Linked DNA regions of Homo sapiens: region 1 is linked to region 2. The links come from fine-mapping of genetic effects on gene expression. A gene starts in region 2. The other region holds a variant in brackets. All regions are shown on one strand. Distances are between the middles of the regions. Region 1 overlaps NSD3 (nuclear receptor binding SET domain protein 3). Region 2 holds the start of BAG4 (BAG cochaperone 4).

Evidence for each region.
Region 1: its variant is fine-mapped to the expression of BAG4 in whole blood (TOPMed, PIP above 0.99).

What each region holds. Positions count from the first base shown.
Region 1 is chr8:38,343,133-38,347,132 of GRCh38, forward strand. All of the region lies in intron 2 of NSD3 (nuclear receptor binding SET domain protein 3), which reads right to left. Among named protein-coding and RNA genes, the nearest start is that of NSD3, 37 kb to the right of the region's middle. The variant C/T (reference allele first, on the strand shown) is at 1,883.
Region 2 is chr8:38,174,387-38,178,917 of GRCh38, forward strand. BAG4 (BAG cochaperone 4) reads left to right here and starts at 2,469. Exons shown (of 5, transcript NM_004874.4): 1 at 2,469-2,753. The coding sequence starts at 2,484. It overlaps LSM1 (LSM1 homolog, mRNA degradation associated), which reads right to left and starts at 2,107. Exons shown (of 4, transcript NM_014462.3): 1 at 1,889-2,107. The coding sequence starts at 1,934. RefSeq lists enhancers at 1,075-1,932, 1,512-1,601, 1,933-2,790, 2,012-2,161, 3,072-3,411.

The DNA.
Region 1 (4,000 bases), 170 kb after region 2:
GTTGCAGTGAGCCGAGATCGTGCCACTGTACTCCAGCCTGGGTGACAGAGACTCTGCCTCAAAAAAAAAAGATTAGTAATACACATCAAATCTGTCAGAATTTCAAAGCCTTAATAATATTACTTATATAAATTTCAAAAACATAGAGTAAAATCATAGTCCCTAAAAGAACAAAAAACTGATGTCAACATTAAAGTTGGAAAGAAAATTTTAAAGGTAATAAATTGTGCATTTTTATTTTACTTTCTGAATGACTTAAGTTTGTAACCTTAAAAATAAAAAATGTGGGCCAAGTGCAGTGGCTCACACCTGTAATCCAAGCAGTTTGGGAGGCCAAGGTGGGTGGATCACCCTAAGGTCAGGGGTTCGCGACCAGCCTGGCCAACATAATGAAACCCCATCTCTACTAAAAATACAAAAACTAGCCAGGCGTGGTGGCACACCCCTGTAATCCCAGCTACTGAGGAGGCTGAGGCAGGATAATCGCTTGAATCCTGGAGGCAGAGGTTGCAGTGAGCCGAGACTGCACCACTGCACTCCACCCTGGGCAACAGAGTGAGATTCTGTCTCAAAAATAAACACATAAAATCAAATAAAAAATGTGTACAATAAAGAACATTTTGCATATAAAGAGTTTCTAAGAATTTTAAGGCCTAATACTCTGAGGCTAGAGAACCAAACCTGCTACCTTAGTGTTCACGGGACTGATCCAGCCACTCTGCTTTTTATAAGGGGATATGGCAAACTAAGGGTTAATGAGACTCTGCCTTAGTGGATTAGCCCACTGAAGTGCTGATAGGAGACCAGTGACTGTTTGAATAATAGGGCCTACGCTCACATGCCTGAGGCATTCCACCTGCCAAGGAGGAAGACATGCAGAAACACAGCCACATATTTCTGATTTGGTGGGAGGAAAAACAGCTCATGCAGATTTTTAAAATATACAATTTCAGTAGTGATCTCAGGTCTCCTGCTGCCTAGATGTTTGGACACATTTTCATTGCTGAGAAGATATACTTAGGTTGTTCCAAATAACAGCCACTCTTCAGAAGGCCAAACAGCTTAGAATTAGGGGGAAATACTTACACATCAAGTACTAAGAAAAAAAGTAGCAGGTGAAATCTTAAGGTGTTGTGTTTTTTTATTTGTTTGTTTTTCAGACAGAGTCTCATTCTGTCACCCAGGCTGGAGTGCAGTGGCATGATCTTGGCTCACTGCAATCTCCACCTCCCAGGTTCAAGCAATTCCTGTGCCTCGGCCTCCCGAATAGTTGGGATTACAGGTACCCACCACCACGCCCGGCTAATTTTTAAATATTTTTAGTAGAGATGGGGTTTCACCATGTTGGCCAGGCTGGTCTTGAACTCCTGACCTTAAGTGATCCACCCACCTCAGCCTCCCAAAGGGCTGGTATTACAGATTGAGCCACCATGCCCGGACTTAAACATGGAACTCAACTATATGAGATTTTGTTTGCTCAAAAAAGAACCTATGAACCTATGAGTGAGCTTTTAAGGAACAACAACAACAAAGTAAAGTAAAAGAAAAAATCTATATAAAAGCAAATCCAGCTCCAGGAGATTTAAATCAGACTTTTTTCTCCAGGAATACATTTTTCATTATGTTTCCCTGAGGCATCTGGGGGAGGGAAGCTGTCCAGTGAAGTCAGTGGATGCTTCTTTGGGCTTCCTTTTCACTTCTCAGTTCTCTACAATGCTAAACACCAAGGGCTGGGACCCCTATGGACAACCAGTAGGCATAGGGTATTGACTATTAAAACACTTAAAACAACTGTCCTGAAGGAAGCACTGTAGATGTTGTTCAAGTTAAGGAAATCTAATTTAAAAATATATGCAGTTGTGAAACATTAATTTATACACAT[C/T]TCTAGCTTAGCAAAAGCATGACATTAACGATAGGCAAGAGCTGTGGGAGCTCTGGCTTTGAAGGTCTGTGGTCAGAATGGACTACAACTTCTACAACTGCCCCCGTGTGTGATACAGTTCCAATTAATCAAAATTCAATTAACAAGAACTTACCTCTTTACTTCTTTGAAGGAAGGGAAGAAAGAAGGGGTGAGAGGGAGAGGGAGAGAGAGAGAGGAGAGAGGCAGAGAAGAAGGGAGAGAAGAAGGAAGGAATGGAAGGGGGAAGGGACGAGGGGGTAGGATGGAAAGGGGGAGGAATGGGGCAGAGAGGGGAGCAGGGAGAGGGAGGGAGAGGAAGAGGGGGAGAAGGAGACAGGGAGAGAGGGAGAGAGAGAGAGAACGAACAAGAAAAAAACCTGGATTTCCCCCCAAGACTCGACTTTCAGGCAATGCTCCTAGTAATATTCCAGGCAGTCAATGCCACTTTCTCCAGCTATACTTTTGGTCAAGTTGATATTCCTTTATCCCAAGCTATTGTAAGATCCTAAACAATCAAATAGTAAATTTTGCTCATCATGATTCAATAAAAGGGAAAATGAATTAAAACCCTTAAATTAAAATCTAAACATCTGGGCCAGGCGCAGTGGCTCACGCCTGTAATCCCGGCACTTTGAGAGGCCAAGGCAGGTGGATCACCTGAGGTCGGGAGTTTGAGACCAGCCTGACTAACATGACCCTGTCTCTACTTGAAAAAAAAAAAAAAATTAGCCAGGCGTGGTGGTATGCCTGTAGTCCCCAGCTACTCGGGAGGCTGAGGCAGGAGAATTGCTTGAACCCTGGAGGCGGAGGTTGCGGTGAGCCAAGATTGCACCACTGCACTCCAGCATGGACAATAAGAGTGAAACTCCGTCTCAAAAACAATAAAATAAAATAAAATCTAAACATTCTAATCCTGAGCTATAATAGTTAACTGAAGGTTTAGGTGATATAAAGAACTAGGTATAGCAGACATCTAACAGAGACAGAACTGGTTTTAGAATCTCATTGCAAAATGACTACTAGAAACATCACTGATTACTCTTTATCTCATTACCCAGTTTTATTGTCTTCATAGCATCTAAAGCTATGAGAACTTATGTACACACATATACATATATGTATGCATATGTATGTATATATGTATATATACATATATGTATATACATACCTATGTATTATGTATATATGCATATGTATATGTGTGTACATAAGTTAGCTTTAGATGCTATGAAGACTATGTATATATACATATATAGTATATAGTATATATAGTATATGTATATGTATATATGTATATACACATGTATATAGTATATATAGTATATGTATATATGTATATATATGTATATATAAATATATATTGTATATATGTATATATGTGTATATATATATGTATATGTGTGTGTATTTTCTGGCTCCCCTCACTAGAATATAAGCATCCTGAGAGCAGGCATCTCTACTTTTCATTCATTGTCATACCTTTAAGTCTTAGATCATTGCCTAGCACACAGTAGGAGGAGCATTTCACCAACATTTGTTAATGAATAAATAAGAAAACTATAAAAAGTGAGAAAACATGTTGAAATGTCACACTGGGACTTGTGAGAGTCTAGAAGCATTGTGACCTTTACTCCAGAAAAACATCACATGTGAGTTGTATGAAGTAATAGAAGCCAGCTACCAAGGAAAAGATGAATAGGTAAGAAGTAAACATTTCTTTGAACAGAAAATAAATTAACTTATTCAGGTATAACACATATAAAAGCAGATAGCTGTCATAAAAATAAATATAGTTTTCCCAAGTCAAAGTTTAGAAAACATTTGCAATTTATATTATGAACTCTTCATTTAAGCTAGAATTATGTTACATACTTATTATATTATTGCTAAGCAAATTCACGCTGAAATCTCAGATATTAAAAAATTCAGCAGCATATATCTTAAGTTACCTATAAAGGATGACTTTTATAAAAACTCACCTGAAGTTTTAATCAATATTTATTAATACTAACTCTGATTTTAATAAAAAGATTTCTATTATTTCAGGTTATTTTGTAGCAAACATTAGCAATGAGTGTTAAATCTAAGCTCTACTGG
Region 2 (4,531 bases):
CAAATTAAAGGATGGGTGAAAATACAGAAACACAAGGAGGAAACTGTGTGTTAGGGTTGGGGAGCAAAGGGTGCATATCAAATGGCTTCAAAGTTTTCATAAAGTAGGGGGTCTGGAATCTACAAAGAGGTAGGGGTTAGAGGACCAAAGAGCAAAACTGATTTTTAGTAAAATGGCAGGATGTGTTAGAGGATATATAAGGAGAGATGAGGGCAAAAGAGCATCCTCGAGCAACTAAAACATCCTGTTACACGTAACAGGTTCATATAGATGTTAATATATATTTAGTCCAATTACACTACATTTCCCTTACATAGCACAATAAGTAATTTGTGTTTAAAAAAATGATCTGTCGGCCGGAGGCGGTGGCTCACGCCTGTAATCCCAGTACTCTGGGAGGCCGAGGTGGGTGGATCACCTGAGGTCAGGAGTTGGAGACCAGACTGCCCAGCATGGCGAAACCTCGTCTCTACCAAAAAATGCAAAAATTAGCTGGGCGTGCTGGCAGGCGCCTGTAATCCCAGTTACTTGGGAGGCTGAGGCACAAGAATTGTTTAAACCCGGGAGGTGGAGGTTCCAGTGAGTCGAGATCGCGCCACTGCACACTACAGCCTGGGCGACAGAGCAAGACTCTGTCTCAAAAAAAAAAAAAAAAAAAGAAAAGAAAAGAAAAAAGATCTGTCAACCATAAAATGATTTTTTTTTTTTTTTTGAGACGGAGTCTTGCTCTGTCGCTCAGGCTGGAGTGCAATGGTGCGATCTCGGCTCACTGCAACCTTCTCCTCCCGGGTTCAAGCGATTCTCCCGCCTCAGCCTCCCGAGTAGCTGGGATTACAGGCACCGCCATAGTGCCCAGCTAATTGTAGGAACGGGGTTTCACCATGTTGGCTAGGCTGGTCTTGAACTCCCGACCTCAGGCGATCTGCCCGCCTCGGCCCCCCAAAGTGCTGGGATTACAGGCGTGAGCCACCGCGCCAGGCCCGTAAAATGAAATTTTAACCATAGATTCTAAATTGCGTATTCACAGAGTAACTGAGACGATTGCAACTTATTTAAAACTATGTGTAAATCATCTTGAAACAAGTTAATGAGAAAGATCACATGATTAAAACAATAAAAAATGTTGCTTGAGGAATAATGCACAGACGGAATTTAGAAAAAAGGAAAGCCAGAACAACTGCAGACGGTTCTTTTCGCTTTTGTATAGGACTGAGCTCCTCTTCCGGACAAAAACCAGGAATAAGGGAGGTCTTCTTAGTAAAAGCAAAAGTAAATTGTCTTAAAAAAAAAAAAAAGGTTGCAAGTGATTTGGTCTTTCCAGAAAAGTCAATACCATGTCTAACAGTGGTCTCTACTACAATAACCTGAAGGTGCTAATGACCCTCACAGTAAAATAAGCTAGCAAATGGCCACACCGTAGAGCGCCTACATTTACTGCCAATTAAGTCCAACTGCCGCTGTCTTAATATTTTCGCTTTTTAATGAATCCTCTCTCTAGGTATTCCGATCCATCCACCGGTAACACGCTGATACTTCGAAATACTGCAGGCAGGAGTGGACGGGGGAGAAGCCCCCCCCCTCCCCGGGCTTCTTTCGTGTTCGGGCCTCTGCTGCCGCGATCCACGGAAGCAAGAATGAGTTCCATCGCTTGGGGCTCACCAGCTAGAGGGCTGGCGGAGGCTGCGAGGGGCAGAAGTAGCAGCAGGCTACTGGGTGGGCAAGCGGTGTGTACCGCAGCTGTGGAGGACATCGACGCGGAACGCCCGGATTGAGCTCAGAACACACCGGCCCCGCCCGGGACTCATTCTACAAGCTTCTTCGGAAGAGGCGCCCGCCCGGGAGGAAGGGTCTAACCCCGGGCTCCACCGGGAGGAGATAAACTACTCACTGTCAATGTCCTCGATGAGGCTGGCGGTGCCAGGCATATAGTTCATTTTGAACTGAAATAATGCTGCAATGCACAGCGGCGGGAGGCCAGCGCGTCCAAAACCTCTTCCCTCCTACCGCAGTCGCCGCCTCGGTGGGACCAAGCCCGGAATCCCGACCGAGACCAGCACTTCTGCCCCGGCTTTCAGCCGCCGGGGGCTGCCGGAAGCTCCTCCATATTACCCTTACCCACTTCCTGTAACACGTGTGGGCCCCCAGGAAGAGGCGGGGCAGCCGTACCGTTGGGGGACACCCTTTCCCTGTTCCTGTTAAGTAGGTAAGAGGAAACTCCATTGGATAAATGGCGAGGAAACGTATACTCCCTCTTAAGGAACACGGTGTCTTCCTTCGTCTCCGGGTTCCCGAGACCCCAGAGTCACTGACCTCCGTCCCTCAGCTTTCGGGGTTCGGCAGCAGAAGGGGCGGGCCCGGGCCTGGGATTGGCTGGCGTCGTCCGACCCCCTTCGCTGCTCTCCATTCGCAATCGCCCGCGGGCGCCTGCGCGATGGGTCGGCCGTGGGGAGCGGGGCGGGAAGCGCTTCAGGGCAGCGGATCCCATGTCGGCCCTGAGGCGCTCGGGCTACGGCCCCAGTGACGGTCCGTCCTACGGCCGCTACTACGGGCCTGGGGGTGGAGATGTGCCGGTACACCCACCTCCACCCTTATATCCTCTTCGCCCTGAACCTCCCCAGCCTCCCATTTCCTGGCGGGTGCGCGGGGGCGGCCCGGCGGAGACCACCTGGCTGGGAGAAGGCGGAGGAGGCGATGGCTACTATCCCTCGGGAGGCGCCTGGCCAGAGCCTGGTCGAGCCGGAGGAAGCCACCAGGTAAGCTTTGCACCCTCTGTCCTTGCGGGGAGGTGAGGGCCCTTGGGGCTGGGGTTCGTAAAGGATCGGGTTTCATACTTGTTTTCCTTATGTGGAGGAGGGTGTGTTGCGGGGGGTGTTGGAGAGACCGAGACTAAGATCAGAGGTTGGGGGGACATGCTTGTGTTCCCTTTGCCCCTCCTTTTCTGCTTCGACCCCAAAAAATATGTTTATTACCATTTAAAAAAGAAAGATCCTGCGCGGACTTACTAAGCTTAGCAGCAGGCTGCAGATCTCTCTCCTGGGAGCGGTGCTGGGTAGGGGTGGCACGGATCTACTGCTCCAGCTCTAGCAATTTATCCTGCGTGGCTGGCAGGCCGGCTCTCCCGGGGAAGGGAAGTGGCTGCAGCCCCCGATGCCGCTCAGGGACCCTCCCGAGGGGAAGGAACCTTTGCGAGGAGGAGGGATCTGGGCATTTAGCTGTTTGCCCCTAATGCCTTGCCTGAGATCGAATCATGAATAATCAGTGTTGTAAAGTACCTTTACGCGGATTGACTGATTTAATTTTCACGGCGACTGCAAGGTAAAATGGCATTACAGCGGCCCTTTTTTTTGTTTTCGAATAAGGAACCGGGGCTCTGCGAGGTTAACTCACTTGCCTAATACACTTGGACCTGCAACATTTTATTCTCCGTTTTCCTGCCGGACATATACTTCTGCTTTGTTAATACAGTCTTCTGGGTAGTGGGTTGTCGTTCTGCGGTGGCAGCATACCTCTCTGTTCGTTCAAGAATTATCCTCATTTGTTGAAAATGTAATAGTGAAATTCTCGTACATTGCTGGTGGGGATGTAAAATGGTGGAAAATAGTTTGGTAGTTCCTCAAAACATTAAGCATTAGAATTAGTCTATGACCCAGCAAGCCCACTCCTGGCTATATACCCAAGAAAACTGATAACGTATGTTCACATAAAGCTTGTCCGCCCATGTTCATAGCATCATTATTCATAATCGCCAAAAAGTAGAAATGTCGTTTTTTTTGTTTTTTTTTTTTTTGAGTTGGAGTCTCGCTCTGTTGCCCAGGCTGGAGTGCAGTGGTGCCATCTCGGCTCACTGCAACCTCCGCCTCCCGGTTTAAGCGATTCTCCTGCCTCAGCCTCTCGAGTAGCTAGGATTACAGGCGCCGGCCATCACACCCGGCTAATTTTTGTATTTTTAGTACAGACGGGGTTTCGCCATGTTGGCCAGGATGGTCTTGAACTCCTGACCTCAAGTGATCCCCCTTTCCCCTGCCCCTCGGCCTCCCGAAGTGTTGGGATTACAGGCGTGAGCCACTGCGCTCGGCCCCAAATGTCATTTTATTATTTGAGTTATAAAGTGAGTGAACCTCTTGGAGCCCTGGTTCTTTATTCGAATACAGGAATGTTGTAAGGACATAACGACTGATGCATCGATAAACAAAATATGGTGTTAATATATTCATTCAATGGAGTATTATTTGGCCTTAGAAAGGAATGAACTGCTGATGCATGCTACAATATGAATGAACCTTGAAAACATCACACTACGTGAGCTAAGTCAGTCAGAAAGACTGCATATTGTGTGATTCCATTTATATGAAATGGCCAGAGTAGGTAAATCTAGAGACAGAAAGCTTAATGGTTGCCAGAGGTTGGGGGACTGGCGGTGTAGGTGAGAATATTCTTTTTGGGATAATGAAATGTTCTAAAATCAGGGCCTGGTGAGATGGCTCACACCTGTAATCCCAGCACTTTGAGTTGCCGAGGCTGGAGGATTGCT